Linked DNA regions of Homo sapiens: region 1 is linked to region 2. A link means that fine-mapping ties the variant in region 2 to the expression of a gene that starts in the linked region. Tissue or cell type: whole blood. Region 2 holds a variant in brackets; the other region holds the start of a gene. All regions are shown on one strand. Distances are between the middles of the regions.

Region 1 (9,543 bases), 85 kb before region 2:
AAGCAATATCAGATAACTAAAATACTTACGGCTTGGAACAGTGGTTGTCAACCCCGGACAATTTTGCCCCTCAGGGACATTGGCAATGTCTGGAGACATTTTGATCGTTCCAACTGGGGAGGATGCTACTGGCATTTAGTAGGTAGAGGCCAGTAATGCTGCTAAACATCCTACAGTGAACAGAATAGTTCCCAACAACAACAAAATATGCAGCCCCAAATGTCAATGGTGCCAAAGTTAAGAAATCCTGAATCCTAGAATAACTTAAATAACATTGGAATCAATTTTTTTTTTTTAAAACATAAGGTCTCACTCTGTCGACCAGGCTGGTGTGCAGTGGCATGATCTCGGCTCACTGCAACCTCCGCCTCCCAGGCTCAAGCAATCCTCCCACCTCAACCTCCTGAGTAGCTGAGACTACAGGTGTGTGCGATACCACGCTTGGCGAAATTTTTGTATTTTTGAAGTGACAGGGTTTCTCCCTCTTGCCTAGGCTGGTCTCAAACTCCTGGGCTCAAGTTATCTGCCTGCCTCAGCCTCCAAAAGTACTAGGATTAGAGGTGTGAGCCACCATGCCCAGCCCAAATATTTTCTTTCTTTCCTTCTCCTTTTCTTTCCTTCTTCTTTTCTCTCCTGCTTTCTTTTCTTTTCTCCACACCCGCCTCCAGCCCTCCCTCTCTTTCTTTTTTCTTTTTTTTTGGTGACAGATTCTCACTCTGTTACCCAGGCTGGAGTGCAGTGGTGCAATCACGGCTCACTGCAGCCTCAACCTTCTGAGATCAAGTGATCCTCCCACTTCAGCCTCCCAAGTAGCTGGGATACAAACATGCACCACCACAACTGGCTAATTTTTAAAATTTTCTATAGAAGTGGGGTCTCTTGATGTTGCCCAGGCTAGTCTCGTATTCCTGGGCTCAAGTGATCCTCCTGCCTCTATCTCCCAAAGTGCTGGGATTACAGGTATAAACCACTGTGCCCAGCCTCTGTATCTTTTTCTTTTCTTCTTCTTTTTTTTTTTTTTTTTTTTTTTAAAGAAGGGGTCTTGCTCTACCATCCAGGCTGGAGTGCAGTGGTGCAATCTTGGCTCACTGCAACCTCTGCCTCCCAGGTTCAAGCGATTCTCCTGCCTCAGCCTCCTGAGTAGCTGGGATTACAGGCATGAGCCACCACACCCGGCTCCATATCTTTTTTAATTTTGGATTTTTAATCACCTTTACAGGCAGCGGTAATTGATGAAGTAAGTCCTGACCAACATAAAAACACATTTTTGCAATGAGGTGCTAAAGAGTCACACAACTTCTTTTGCAAGCTAGTTGAATTCCAAGATCCTGTCCTTTTTGGAGTTTTGGAAAACAATATGTGAAATAGGTTATTATTTTAATTCTAACACTTTTTCTATAGATCCTTCTGGATTATCTAGGGACACATTGCATCACCTATCAAAAAGTGTAAATTTTAAAAATTCTCTCTAATCTTTATGACTTTTTTCTTAGTTTATTATTCTGGTTTGAGCTTCTAGTGAAATATTGAATAGCAGTGTTAGTGGATAGTTTTTGTCTTATTCTTGATGTCAAGGAGAAAGTTTTAAATATTTCCTTAGGTGTGATGTTTGTCATAGGGTTTTTTTTTGTATATACTCTCAATCCAATTAAGGAAATCCCCTTTTATTCAAATTGCTAAGAGTTTACTTGTTTCTTTAATCATGAATGGATATTGGATTTTATCATCGGCTTTTTCTCAATCTATAGAAAAGCTCACATGGGAGAAAGAATAGTCCTTTTAGCAAATGGTGTGGGAGACAACTGAATATCCACATTTAAGACAATAAAACTGGATCCCTACCTAACATCCATACACAAAAATTAGCTCAAGGTACAAGATAGGCTTTAATATAAGTGCTGAAACTATAAAATTTTATTAGGCCTGTGCAAAAGTAATTGCGATTTTTGCCATTACTTTCAATGGCAAAACCTGCAATTACTTTTGTGCCAATGTAATAGAAGAAAACACAGGAATAAATTTTTGTGATCTAGGTTGGGTAATAATTTCTTGAATAAGGCACCAAAAGCACAAATAATAAAAAAGGAAATTGATAAGTTGTATCTCATCAAATTAAGATTAATTGTGCTTCAAAGGATGCCATTGAGAAAGTGAAAAGACAAGCAAAAGTAGGAAAAAATATTTTCCAATAAATTGTTAGGACTAGTATCCAGAATATATAAAGAATTCTTACAACTCAATATCACTAGTCACTAGGAAATGGAAAGCCAAATCTCAATGAGGTATCATATCACACTGAGTAGGATGGATAAGATAAAAAAGACAGACCATAATGAGTGTTAGTCAGGATGTGAAGAATACTGGAGCCCCTCATACAGTGCTGGTGGGAATGAAAAATGGGGCAGTCACTTCGGAAAACTATTTGACAGTTTCTCAAAACATTAAACATAGAGTTAACCATAAGAACAATCTACTCCTAGGTATCTTCCTAAGGAAAGTGAAAACATACATCCACACAAAAACTCTCACATGAAAATTCACAGAGACATTTTTCATAAAAGCCAAAAATTTGAAACTACCTAAATAGCCATCTGACGAATGAATAAAATATGGGAGATCCATACAATGGATTATTATTTGGCAATAATAGGGAATGAAACACTGATACAAGCTACAAAATAGATGAACCTTGAAAAATTATGCTAAGTGAAAGAAGTCAGGCATGAAATGTTACATATTGTATAATTCTGTTTATATGAAATGTCCAAACTGGCATATCTATAGAGACAGAGAGCAGATTTGTGGTTTCCTAGGGTGGTAGAGAGGGGAAAATGGGGAGTGCTAGTGGGTACAGTTTTCTTCTTAAAGTAATGAAAATGTCTTAAAATTAGATGATGGTGATATTTGCCAACTCTGTAAATGAACTAAAAGCTGTCATATTTTATACTTTTAATAGGTGAAGTTTATGGCCTGTAAATTATATCTAAATAAAGATTTTAAAAATTAATATAAATTTGTATTTTTTATTACTTAAACATTTTGTCTATTTATCTCCAATTTACTTTTTAAAATAAACAGCTTTATTTTTTTTTTTTCAATTTTAAGATAGGGCCTTGCTCCATCACCCAGGCTAGAGTAGAGGGCAGTGGCATGATTATGACTTACCGCAGGCTTGAGCTCAAGTGATACTCCCACCTCAACCTTCCAAGTAGCTGGGACCACAGGCATGCCACCACACTCGACTAGTTTTCGTATTTTTTTTTTTTTTTTTGTAGAGACAGGGTCTCGCTATGTTGCCCAGGCTGGTCTTTAACTCCTGAACTCGAGATCCCCCTGCCTAAGCCTCCCAAAGTGCTGGGAATACAGGTGTGAGCCACCATACCTGGCCTAAAAAACAGATTTGAGATGAAACTTGCATGCCATTCAATTCATTCATTTAAAGTGTACAGTTCAGTGTTTTTTAGTATATTTACAGAGTTGTGCAACCATCACCACAATTTAGCTTTAGAGTATTTTCATCTCCCCAAAAATTAACCTGTACCATGAACTGACACTCCCCATTCCCTCTTCCCAACACTCCTCTTCCCAGAACCACTCATCTACTTTCTATCTCTATTGATTTACCTATTTGGGAGATTTCACATAAAGAGGTCATACAATATGTGGTATTTCATGACCGCTCCTGACTTGGCATGTTATCATCGTCATTCCTTTTAATTGTACATATTTGCAAGCTCTACATTATATTATTGCTTTGTATATATGCAAATTCATTTGGATATATACACCTTAGGTAAACCTTTGATATTTTAATTTTGGTTACACTGAACTTAAATTTATCTGTGAAAGAGAAAAGACATCTTACAATATTGAGTCTTCCTGTTGAAGAGAACAATATATTTTTTCATTGATTTAAGTTTTATGTTCTCCCAGTAGCATTTTAAAGTTTTCTTCATCTAGGTTCTCTGTATTTTTTGTTGAATTCATACCTAGATATTGCTGCTTTTTGTATATTTTTTTCTTTTGGATAGTTGGGCCTTCTCTTCTTCATTAGAGTAGAGATGAGTGGTTTTGTCAGTGCTTTCTTTATGTGACCTCTGTAATAGGTAATTTTCCCTTAAGTCTGATATACAATATAACTATGTACATAGACATATATGAAACAAGGAAAATTTATGACAAGAGCCAAATAGTGTTTCTGACAAATAATTCACAGAAGCCCAGCGATTTTATTTTGATCCAAATTTTAAAAACTGAGAAAAGAAAGAAAAAAAGCAATGATGTTTGTTTTCCAGAGTTTCCCGGGAAGTTTTTTCAACTTGTTACATTTTTATCCATTACTTTACAGCTACATGGGCTCTGGTCCATTTGTGTCAGGGCCAAGTTCATCTTGTTTTGAGGCCTGTACACTTACACACTTTCTTCTGCCTGGGAATGATTTCTCCTCACATTCTGATTCTCCTTCAAATCTCAGTTTAAGTGTCAACTCCTCTCCAAACCTCCCTGAGTGAAGTGGGCCTTTCCCTCCATTTTCTTTCACTGTACTACTTCATCCCCTGAGCACTCATCACAACCTAATAACATCTATTAACAGCTTTGTCTGTTTCAGACACACAATGTAGATTCTCCAATGCCTACCAGAGTACCTGGCACATACTATGCCTTCAATAAATAATTTTCAAAAAAATGAATTCAGATAAGGCAAATGTAATTTAAACTTTCAGTTAACTTATATTGAATGTATATGCCAGGCACAAGTCATGGTGTATTTTACATACTACATTTGGTTGTCATCTAATTAGCTCTGAAGGTCGCAGATCCATAATTCCAAAGTCCTCTCTAATCCTATAAATTTTCTCCTTCTACCTGAGGGTCTTGTCCCGCCCCCCACATCTTCTCCGCCCCTCACGCTTCTGAGAGCCCAAGCAGGGTTACCCGGCGAAGACTTCCGGGGCCGATGCGCATGCGCGGCCGATTTGCACATGCGCAATACTCGCGCTGCCTCCGTGGTCCCTGCCTGGCTGAGGTGGCAGCAGGGGGCGGGACGCGCAGCGCTATGGCAGAGGGCAGCGGGGAAGTGGTCGCAGTGTCTGCGACCGGGGCTGCCAACGGCCTCAACAATGGGGCAGGCGGGACCTCGGCGACGACCTGCAACCCGCTGTCGCGCAAGCTGCATAAGATCCTGGAGACGCGGCTGGACAACGACAAGGTAACCGGGGCTGGCGGGGCCGGAGTCACAGGTTCCTGCGGGGCTGAGCCGGGCCAGGGGCGGCGTCTGTCAGGGACCCACCGCGGTCTCCCTCGTCCCGGCAGCAGAGGGACCGCGAGTGACCCCAGACCTGCGGGCTCCGCTGCTCTGCGGGCGCCGGGGGCGGTGAGAAGGGGGAGCCCCAGCAACCTCCGGAAAAGCGAAGGGGTTTCCTGGGTGTTCTCTCCACCTGAAAAGGTGCCTTCAAGGCTCTCTGGATGGGATTGGTGAACGGTGGTGCCTCGAGAAGTGTCCTCCAAACACCCCTGGAGGCGTTTGGCTGTGTGAGCTGGGAGAGTGGAGGAGAGCACAAGACTGGATATGAAACAGATGCAAAAGAGCAGATTCCAAGATAAGGTAGCGCAAATGGGGGTCGGGAGACCAAGAGAGCAGTGGTAGGGATAAGGGTGCATTTCCACGGACAAGTGACAACAATTGCAATAATTTGCAGCGCGAAAGAACTACCTTTGCCCGTGGCTGAAATGAACTCATATCTACTAGTTTTTGTTGAGCCAAGCGCTATGATTTGTGGGCTCAGGCTGTATTTCTTTAGAAGATAAACTGACAGCATGCTCTCACAAGTACCTCCTGAAACTTAAGTTGGACTTTACAGCTCCTCACATACCCAGCCATCTCTTCTGTCTCTGTGGGTCGCTAGGTAAATTGGTCATGACAGTGTAACATAAAGAAGAACATATGTCAAAGTTAGAGAGTTTTATAGGTGAATATGTAGGTAACTGAAAATAAGCTGTCGATAACAATTTGATTCCGATATGTAAAAAAATAACATTGCAATGTAATGAATAAGAAATTAGGGCTCTGGAGACTACCACTTATTAGATAGAACCACTAAATGTGTGCATCATGATTTGAGTAAGTCCCTTCACTAATCTCAGCTTCTGTTTAGGAATTAGGAATCCTGCTGTTAAGTTTCTCATGGTTGTTATTTGAGGACTCAGTGAGAGACTCCAGGTAAAGTCCTTTGCAAAGAGCCTGGCACTTACTCTTTCTTAACAAATATTAATTTTATCATAAAATTTATGAAGTGTTTAATGTGTCTCATATTGATATTTATTATATCATTTAAGACTGCTACTTGCTCTGATATAGATAACATGGCCTTCTTTTTTGGACAGAGTTTTGCTCTTTTTGCCCAAGCTGGAGTGCAATGGGCGCAGTCTCGGCTCACTGCAACCTCTGCCTCCCGGGTTCAAGCGATTCTCCTGCCTCAGCCTCCCAAGTAGCTGGGATTACAGGCATGTGCCACCACGCCTGGCTAATTTTGTATTTTTATTAGAGACGGGGTTTCTCCATGTTGGTCAGGCTGGTCTTGAACTCCTGACCTCAGGTGATCTGCCCGCCTCAGCCTCCCAAAGTGCTGGGATTACAAGGCGTGAACCACTGCGCCCGGCCACATAACCTTCTTTTTACCATGAGGAAAATAAAGCATGGAGAGAGTGCAGCTAGGTTGTCATATAACTAGTAACTGGTGGAACTGTAATTTGCATCTGAGTCTGTGATTTCATTCGTTCAACATTACTGATTACTTCTTTGAACCAGACCTTAGGACATTTCAAGGCTATAGTCTAAAGAAACTGCTTCACTTCATGGGTTTTTTTTTTCTGTACAGTAAGTATTTATAGTTGTAAACATATTTTTGCTTCCTCTGAAATATTAAATTGAATTTATATAAATAGTTTTACTGTTTTTGTCAATCCAGCCAATATTTCAAAATAACAAATAGAAACATGAAAGGGTAAGCCTACTAGAATATACAGTAGTGGAGGTGTAGAAATGTATATCTGCAGAATTTAGTGTACAATGGGGATGTCCTGGGCTTGGTTCTCTGCTCTCTCTTCCATTCATGTTTTCTCTGTAAGAAAAATCTTGTACTTTCATGGTTTTAAGTAGCAAAAAGCATGATTACTCTCAAATTTATAACTCTGTTTCTGACATCTACTGAGCTCCAGATTTGTAGAATTAGTTGTCTATACTATACCTCCAATTGGATACTGATTGACGTCATAGAACTTAACATGGGCGGAACTCTTGATTTTTCCCTAAACTGGTTCCGCTCTCACTAAAGAACGTCACCATTTACCCAGTCAAGCAAGAAGCATATGAATAATTTTGGATTCTTGTCACTTTTTTTTTTTTTTTTTTACATCTCCTGCAAATCCACAAACATATCTTATAGGTTCTACTTTGAAGAATATTTTTGGAATATCTTTTTTTTTTTTTTGAGACCAAGTCTCACTCTGTCGCCCAGGCTGGAGTCCAATGGAGAGAACATGGCCTTACTGTAGCCTTGATCTTGCTGGCTCAAGCGATCCTCCTGCCACAGCCTCCCAGGTAGCTGGGTCTACAGGCACATGCCACCATACCTGGCTAATTTTTTGATTTTTTTATAGAGATAGGGGTCTTACTATGTTATGCAGGCTGGTCTTGAACTGGCATCAAACTATCCTCCCAACTTGACCTCCCAAACTGCTGGGATTACAGGTGTAAGCCACCGTGCCATATTTTGGAATATCTCTTTTTCATTTGTACTACTGCCATCTTGGTCTAAGCCACTATCAAACCATACTGGGATTATTTTTGTTTTTTCTCTTACCTACCTCCTTTCTTGTACCCCTTTACCATTCATTTTCCTTACAAAGTTGGAATAAACTTTTATAAATATAAATCGTATTACATTACTCCCCTGCCTAAAATCGTAATAATTTCTCATAACTTCAGTCATAGTGGCCTTCCTTCTACCACTTTAGGGTCTTTGTACTCATTGTTTGCTCTGTCTGTGGAAGGCTTTGTCCCCATGACTGGCTGTTGCCTACACTGAGGCCTCAGTTCAAAGTCACCTCAGAGAGGCCTTCCCCTTTAAGTTTCTCCAAGTTCTACTTCCAGTTATTCAGTTTCTAGCCTGGAGGATTCCAGTACTTATTCTTAAATAGATCATTCCAGAGATAGTTAATGTGCACATTATATATGTGTCAACTAGGTATACACAAGTAAGTATGCATGTATATATTCCTTTTAAGTTTTTAACTGTTGGTATTACAACTGTTTCTATGCCTTGATGTTTCACTTAACATATCTCAAAGCTTATACTACGTAAGTGCATAAAGATTTTTTTTTTGTGAATGAGTATATCATAATTTATTTAACCAATCCCTTTTAGATGGACATTTATATTATTTCTAGTCTTTGCAATTCCCAACAATTCTGCAGTGAATAATCTTGTATATATAACACTATACACAAGTAAGTATACCCTTCTTGTGTTCTGGAAATAAGCATGCTTCAGTAATTTGAAGGTCATTCAATATTTTTCGGATTGGTTAATGAAAATAAATCATTTGAAAATGATTTCATTACATTTTGTCTTGAGATTTGAAACCATTTAAAAATTAGTTCCAGTAACTGTCTTCTGTTACCAATTGTATAGGAGATGTTAGAAGCTCTCAAGGCACTTTCAACCTTTTTTGTTGAAAATAGTCTGCGGACTCGAAGAAATTTACGTGGAGATATTGAACGTAAAAGTTTAGCCATCAATGAAGAATTTGTAAGCATTTTCAAGGAAGTGAAGGAGGTATGTAAACTCTTTTCATTTAGCATATATTGAGAACTTACTATTACGCCTGGCTCTGTGCTAAGTATTTTTTTGAATTAGGTTGATATGTTTGCTATTTGTATACTATGCCCAAATAGAAAGCTTAGCTAATTTCTCTTGCTGCATCTAGATCTTTATTTGTATTAATGTGATTTATGAATCTGTGACTTCCACAAATATTAATTCTTAGAAAGTTAACATTGTTCTAGAAGATTATCTTAGGAATTTTAGCTTTTTTAACAAAAAAATTAACATTTCCCTGAATGGCTTTCCAATAGAAATATCCCCTCATTGCATAAACCTCTCTTGGATAACAACTTCTCTACTGGAGATTAATTAGAATTGAGTTACTTTTACTATATCCTAAAATATGAAAATTTCAGATTAAGATCAGTAACTTCAATGTATTAATAATGATTCATCATACTTGAGAGTGTAGTCCACTCACCACAGAGTGAAAATAAATTTTATGTTATTATATCTTTATTATGTAATATTTTATTAGCTGTTTTAATACATTGTAATACTAATATATTTCTATGTGAGTTATGGAAGTGTTGCACATGGTTTCAATGAGTGTTCAATAAAAATAGGTTGTTTTTGACACCTTGGTAGGTTTTTATTGACTGAAGACTAATACTTTGGAAAGGATTTTTTTAAAAAAAATTACATTAGAGATGGACTC
Region 2 (8,000 bases):
CAAGAAGAGCAAAACTCCATTTCAAAAAAACAAAAAACAAGATTCTGAATTTCTTCTTTGTGTTATCTTGAATTTCTTTGCACTTCCTCGGCACAACTATTTTGATTTCTCTGTCTGAAAGGTCACATATGTCTGTCACTCTAGGGTTGGTCACTGGTGCCTTGTTTAATTTGTTTGGGGAAGTCATGTTTTCCTGGATGGTCTTGATGCTTGTAGATGTTCATCAGTGTCTGGGCATCGAAGAGGTGGGTGTTATAGTCTTCATAGTCTGGGCCTTGTACCTGTCCTTCTTATGAAGGCTTTCCAAGTATTCAAGGGGACTTGTGAATTAAGTCTTTGGTCACTGCAGCCATATCTACATTAGGGAACACCTCAAGCCCTGTGGCTCTTGCAGACTCAATGAGGGTACTACATTGGTGGTGTTGGGTGAGATCCAGGAGAACTTCCTGGATTACCAGGTGTAGACTCTTGTTCTCTTCCCTTACTTTCCCCCAGGCAAATAGAGTCTCCCTCTCTGTACTGAGCTGCCTCGGAGCTGGGGGAGTGGTGATACATGCCTCTTCGTGGCACCACCACTGGTACTGCGCTGGGTGAGATCCAAAGCAAGCATAGCATTGGGTCTTGCCCAAGGCCCACAGGGATCACTGCATGACTACTGCCTATGTTCCCTCAAGGTCCAAGGGCTCTGCAGTCCGCAAGTGATGAATCAGTGAGGCTTGTGTCCTTCCCTTCAGGGCAGTGAGTTTCCCTTGTCTCCGAGTGGGTCCAGAGAAGCTGTCTGGGATGCAGGGCCTGGAGTCAGGAACCTTAGGAATCTATTATATGTGGTGTTCTGTTCTGAGGTGGCTGAGCTGGCATCCAAGATACAGAACAAAGTCCTTCCCATGCTTCTGTCTCAAGCAGAAGGAAGGAGTCTTACCCGGAGCTACAAGCTGCATCACCTGGGGTTGCGGGAGGAGTGATGCAAGTACTCCCGTGGCTGCCCTAGCTGGTGTCTCACTAGGTCACGTGCACCCCAAGTCCACTGGCTCTAAGCCCAGCACAGCACAGAAGCTTGCCCAGGAATTAGAGCCCTTATGGCCCAAAACTTGCCCTTCAGTTTATTTCAGATCCCAGAGCACCTTATCCCATGGTGGTGGGGCTTGCCAGAACTCTGGTTCTGACCGCTGGGATGGAGGCTTCCCTTCTGACTAGTGCTGGTCTAAATGCTCCCTCTGTGGATGCTGGCTGAGTTCTGCCTGGTGTTGCTTTCTGCTGTGACAGGGCAGCACTAAATTCCAGTGCTACGTCCCACAATCACTCTTTTTTCTCCCTTCCACAAGCACATAAATTCTCTCTCCGCGCCATGCTGCCAGTGCCAGGGATTAGGGGAAGGATGGTGTAGGCAATTCAAGACTATCTTTCTTATCCTCTTTAGTGCCTCTTTCCTTAATATGATGTTAAAACCAAGTACTATGATTGCTCACCTAATTTTTGGTTCTTAGGAAGGTGATTTTTTGTGTGGATAGATTTGGCGTTCCTGCTTGGGGGACGATCTCTGGAGGCTTCTATTTGCTCATCTTTCTCCTAATTGTGGAATTTTAAACACATAAAACATACGACAACAAAAGTGCAAAAGATGCAGTGGGAGGGAAGTGGAAGTTTGGTGTTTTAATATTGTAAGGATATTAAGTTATCCATGAAATATATAATATTGATTGGAGGTAGACTGTAAACCTTCCCACAACCATTGAAACAAATAAAGTTATTTAGCATACCAATAGATAAGAACAAATAGAATTTTTAAAAAGTAATTGTATCAAAAGAAGGTGAAAAAGGAGGGTAAAAGAACAAATGAGACAAGTATGAAACAAGTAGCAGGAAGATAGACTTAATTGCAGCCTAATAAGTAACTGTACTAAATGTGAAAGTACTACAGATTTGAACTAAAAGACAAAATTGTTAGACTGGATGAAAAAGCATGGTACAACTATCTGCTATCTATAAAAAGTCCATTTTAAATATAAAGGTGGAGATAGTTTAAAAGGATGACAAAAGATATACCATGCAAGCACTAATCCTAAAGCTGGAGTAGCTATATTACTATAAGAAAAATTAGACTACAGACAGATAATAATACCAGAGATAAAACGTGACATTTTATAATAGGATTAATACATGAAGTAAATATAGTAGTATATCTGTGCATTTAATAGCAGAGCTGCAAATAACATGAAATATAAGCTTACAGGATTGATGAGGAGTAGCTGTATCAAGAAATACAGTTAGATATTTCTGCATAGTCCTCTCAGTAATTGATACAAAAAAATAGGAAATTAACATGATGCTTCATAGTTGAACAGTACTACCAATCTTTACCTAATAGAAATATTTAAAATACTACACACAAACTATAGAAAATACACATTGTTTTTAAGTACGGATAAAACATTCATGAAACTAATGTAAGAATGAGCAAAAAAGGAAATAAGAAATCCTAAGTAGATGAACGTAAGAACTCAAACTAGATGATTCTAGTTCTAGAAAGTTCCTAGCAAGAACTAGAAAAGTCATAGCAAGTTTTTCTTTATAAATTCCAAGCTAAATCAGTTTTTACAATGAATGTGGATAACTTAAGCTACCCTATTTTAACATACAAGAGTGTCAGTTTAGATTTCAAAAAAAAGCAAACCGCAGTTCACCTATATGCCCTTTACAAGAGACCATTTACAACAAAGTGGCATACAAAGAAAGAAAGAGTTGCAATATTAACAGGCAAAATTGAATTCAGGGTGTAAGTCAATAAAAGGTCAAAGGGAAATGTTTTATATTGATAAAAGTCATGCTTAAGTAGGTCTTAGGTAAAAATCCTGAAAGATATAAAAAATCATTTAAAAAAATCAAACATTCCATTGCATCAAGAGAGGAAACACTATAGCCAAAGCATACAAAGAAAAATCTTACTTGAATTTACTACATAAACCAGTTAGAGAAGAGTACCATGACACTATGTTGGAATATTGAAAATCTACAGCAAACATAATACTTAATGATGAAACATTAGAAACCTTTTCATTACAGTTCAAAACAATATATGCATAGTTACTGTCACATCTGTTTACCTTGGAGCTTCTAGCCATTGTAATGAATTGAGTCATAAATATTGAAAAGAATTAATAAAACTTATTAATTTTAAATGTCTGTACCAAAAACAAAAAAGGCAAGCAATTAACAAACTAATAGAACTAAAATAGAGTTGTTACTTGGCCAGATTCAAAATTAACATACTAAAATTAGTACCTCTTCTGTATACCAGAAATATCTAATTATAACAATGAAAAGTAAAAGACTTTATTATAATAGTCACAGGATTGTTTCCTAGAAATAAATTTGATAATATACGTGGAAAATTATATAATGAAACTTATAAAAATTTATTGAAAATTCTAAAAGATCTGACTAAATAGGCATACTCTGTTCATAGACTGAAAAATTCACTAGTGTAACAGGTTAATCTGTAAATAACTCCAACTTTAATCAAAATTCTCATGGAATCATTTCATTAAATATGTATCTAAGAAGTATATGAGAGAGGACTCATACTTCTGAACATCTCCATAATTAGCACTCTGGCCCAAGGTGGCATCATCTGTGCCTGGTTTATCACATTAACCTCTGAACTTTTCCATTTTCACACTTGCCCTCTCCACCACCATCCACCCAAGCCCTGCAGCCTAAACTGAACACTCAGAGTGATCCTTTAATAGATTACTTAGTTCAATTCTTTCGATGAATTTAAAAGAGGATATTGTTTAGAAAGACTAAGTAATTGAATCAAGGTCAAAAAATTTGTAAGAAGTAGAGCCATGATTTGTATCCAACATTTCTGATTCTAGACCCTATTCTCTTCAACACTAGACTATACTGTATTTTATTAGCTCTTTCTGTGTTGAGATTATTTTATTATTTTTAAAGAATGCTC[G/A]TAGACGTCTGGCATATATGATGATAGATGACACTTATCTGAAATATGTAGCTTGGCCTCATAAAAAATATGCTTTAATTTCATTTATAGACACATAGCTGACCTAGGATGAAAAATTGTCTTGACCCATTGTGACATTTCTTATATTTATATGGTAATGAAGAAAAATCAAAATTTTAACTAATCTGTTTTTCATAAGGATATTATCGTCTTTTCTTCTTGGGCTTTTAGGCTTAACGCCTTTTTTTCTCCTGTGGCACATTTGATTGCACTCTTAACTGCGGTGCTAAAATAAAACTCAATTTTAGTGATCACAGAATCTGATGTTGAAATAGTCTATTTCTGGAAATGCTGGGTTTATGGTAATGATGAAAGTTGTATCATGTTGTTATGGCAACCAAAATCCTAAAGTACAGATTAATGACAAGCTCACTGATTTTTGGAAGTAAGCAGTTCATTTCTTATCTCAGTTCAGTTTTAAATAATTATTTAGAATACAGTAAATTTCTTTGAACATATTTTAAAATGAGAATAATATCTCCATTTAGTTACATATCTAGAGATTCTCTTCTTCAAAGGATCACAGCTCCTCGCCAGCAATGGAACAAAGCTGGATAGAGAATGACTTTGACAAGCTGACAGAAGTAGGCTTCAGAAAGTCGATAATAACAAACTTCTCTGAGCTAAAGGAGGATGTTCGAACCCATTGCAAGGAAGCTAAAAACCTTGAAAAAAGATTAGATGAATGTCTAACTAGAATTAACAGTGTAGAGAAGACCTTAAATGACCTGATGGAGCTGAAAACCATGGCACGAGAACTATGTGACGCATGCACAAGCTTCAATAGTCGATTTGATCAAGTGGAAGAAAGGGTATCAGTGATTGAAGATCAAATTAATGAAATCAAGAAGAGAAGTTTAGAGAAAAAAGAGTAAAAAGAAACAAACAAAGCCTCCAAGAAATATGGGACTATGTGAAAAGACCAAATCTACGTTTGATTGGTGTACCTGAAAGTGACAGGGAGAGTGGAACCAAGTTGGAAAACACTCTTCAGGATGTTATCCAGGAGAACTTCCCCAACCTAGCAAGGCAGGCCAACATTCAAATTCAGGAAATGCAAAGAACACCACCAAGATACTCCTCGAGAAAAGCAACCCCAAGACATATAATTGTCAGATTCACCAAGATTGAAATGAAGGAAAAAATGTTAAGAGCAGCCAGAGAGAAAGGTCGGGTTACCCACAAAGGGAAGCCCATCAGACTAACCGCATATCTGTCAGCAGAAACTCTACAAGCCAGAAGACAGTGGGGTCAATATTCAACATTCTTAAATAAAAGAATTTTCAACCTAGAATTTCATATCCAGACAAACTAAGCTTCATAAGTGAAGGAGAAATAAAATCCTTTACAGACAAGCAAATGCTGAGAGATTTTGTTACTACCAGGCCTGCCTTATAAGAGCTCCTGAAGGAAGCACTAAACATGGAAAGGAACAGCCGGTACCAGCCACTGCAAAAACATGCCGAACTGTAAAGACCATTGATGCTGGGAAGAAACAGCATCAACTAACGGGCAAAATAACCAGCTAACATCATAATGACAGGATCAGATTCACACATAACAATATTAACCTTAAATGTAAATGGGCTAAATGCCCCAATTAAAAGACACAGACTGGCAAATTGGATAAAGAGTCAAGACACATCAGTGTGCTGTATTCAGGAGACCCATCTCACATGCAGAGACACACATAGGCTCAAAATAAAGGGATGGAGGAAGATCTACCAAGCAAATGGAAAACAAAAAAAGGCAGGGGTTGCAATCCTAGTCTCTGATAGAACAGACTTTAAACCAACAAAGATCAAAAGAGACAAAGAAGGCCATTACATAATGGTAAAGGGATCAATTCAACAAGAAGAGCTAACTATCCTAAATATATATGCACCCAATACAGGAGCACCCAGATTCATAAAGCAAGTCCTTAGAGACCTACAAAGAGGCTTAGACTCCCACACAATAATAATGGGAGATTTTAACACCCCACTGTCAACATTAGACAGATCAACGAGACAGAAAGTTAACAAGGATATCCAGGACTTGAACTCACCTCTACAGCAAGCAGACCTAATAGACATCTACAGAACTCTCCACCCCAAATCAACAGAATATACATTCTTCTCAGCACCACATCGCACTTATTCCAAAATTGACCACATAGTTCGAAGTAAAGCACTCCTCAGCAAATATAAAAGAACAGAAATCACAACAAACTGTCTCTCAGACCACAGTGCAATCAAACTAGAACTCAGGATTAAGAAACTCACTCAAAACTGCACAACTACATGGAAACTGAACAACCTGCTCCTGAATGACTACTGGGTACATAACGAAATCAAGGCAGAAATAAAGATGTTCTCTGAAACTAATGAGAACAAAGACACAACATACCAGAATCTCTGGGACACATTTAAAGCAGTGTGTGAGGGAAATTTATAGCACTAAATGCCCAAAAGAGAAAGCAGGAAAGATCTAAAATCGACACCCTAACATCACAATTAAAAGAACTAGAGAAGCAAGAGCAAACAAATTGAAAAGCTAGCAGAAGGCAAGAAATGACTAAGATCAGAGCAGAACTGAAGGACATAGAGACACAAAAAACCCTTAAAAAAATCAATGAATCCAGGAGCTGGTTTTTTGAAAGGATCAACAAAATTGATAGACGGCTAGCAAGACTAATAAAGAAGAAAAGAGAGAAGAATCAAATAGATGCAATAAAAAATGATAAAGGGAATATCACCACTGATACCACAGACATACAAACTACCATCAGAGAATACTATAAACACCTCTATGCAAATAATCTAGAAAACCTAGAAGAAATGGATAAATTCCTTGACACATACACCCTCCCAAGACTAAACCAAGAAGAAGTTGAATCTCTGAATAGACCAATAACAGGCTCTGAAATTGAGGCAATAATTAATAGCCTACCAACCAAAAAAAAGTCCAGGACCAGATGGATTCACAGGTGAATTCTACCAGAGGTACAAAGAGGAGCTGGTACCATCCATTCTGAAACTTCCAATCAATAGAAAAAGAGGGAATCCTCCCTAACTCATGTTATGAGGCCAGCATCATCCTGATACCAAAGCCTGGCAGAGACACAACAAAAAAAGAGAATTTTAGACCAATATCCCTGATGAACATCGATGCAAAAATCCTCAATAAAATACTGGCAAACTGAATCCAGCAGCACATCAAAAAACTTACCCACCAAGATCAAATTGGCTTCATCCCTGGGATGCAAGGCTGGTTTAACCTATGCAAATCAATAAACATAACCTATCATATAAACAGAACCAGTGACAAAAACCACATGATTATCTCAATAAACGCAGAAAGGGCCTTCGACAAAATTCCACAGCCCTTCATGCTAAAAACTCTCAATAAACTAGGTATTGATGGAATGTGTCTTAAAATAATAAGAGCTATTTATGACAAACCCACAGCCAATATCATACTGAACAGGCAAAAACTGGAAGCATTCCCTTTGAAAACTGGCACAAGACAGGGATGCCCTCTCTCACCACTCCTATTCAACATAGTGTTGGAAGTTCTGGCCAGGGCAATCAGGCAAGAGAGAGAAATAAAGGATATTTAATTAGGAAAAGAGGAAGTCAAATCATCCCTGTTTGCAGATGACATGATTGCATATTTAGAAAACCCCATTTTCCCAGCCCAAAATCTCCTTACGCTGACAAGCAACTTCAGCAAAGTCTCAGGATACAAAATCAATGTGCAAAAATCACAAGCATTCCTATACACCAATAACAGACAAACAGAGAGCCAAATCATGAGTGAACTCCCATTCACAATTGCTACAAAGAGAATAAAATAACCTAGGAATCCAACTTACAAGGGATGTGAAGGACCTCTTCAAGGAGAACTACAAACCACTGCTCAACAAAATAAAAGAGGACACAAACAAATGGAAGAACATTTCATGCTCATAGATGGGAAGAATCAGTATTGTGAAAAT

What was found. PIP is the estimated chance that this variant, and not a neighbour inherited with it, causes the effect.
Region 1: COG6 starts here. The variant in region 2 is the best candidate, but not a certain one, in a credible set for the expression of COG6 in whole blood (TOPMed, PIP 0.89).

The regions. Positions count from the first base shown.
Region 1 is chr13:39,650,671-39,660,213 of GRCh38, forward strand. It overlaps COG6 (component of oligomeric golgi complex 6), which reads left to right and starts at 4,992. Exons shown (of 19, transcript NM_020751.3): 1 at 4,992-5,209; 2 at 8,694-8,837. The coding sequence starts at 5,057. RefSeq lists a silencer at 5,256-5,305.
Region 2 is chr13:39,736,669-39,744,668 of GRCh38, forward strand. All of the region lies in intron 18 of COG6 (component of oligomeric golgi complex 6), which reads left to right. Among named protein-coding and RNA genes, the nearest start is that of MIR4305, 77 kb to the left of the region's middle. The variant G/A (reference allele first, on the strand shown) is at 3,962.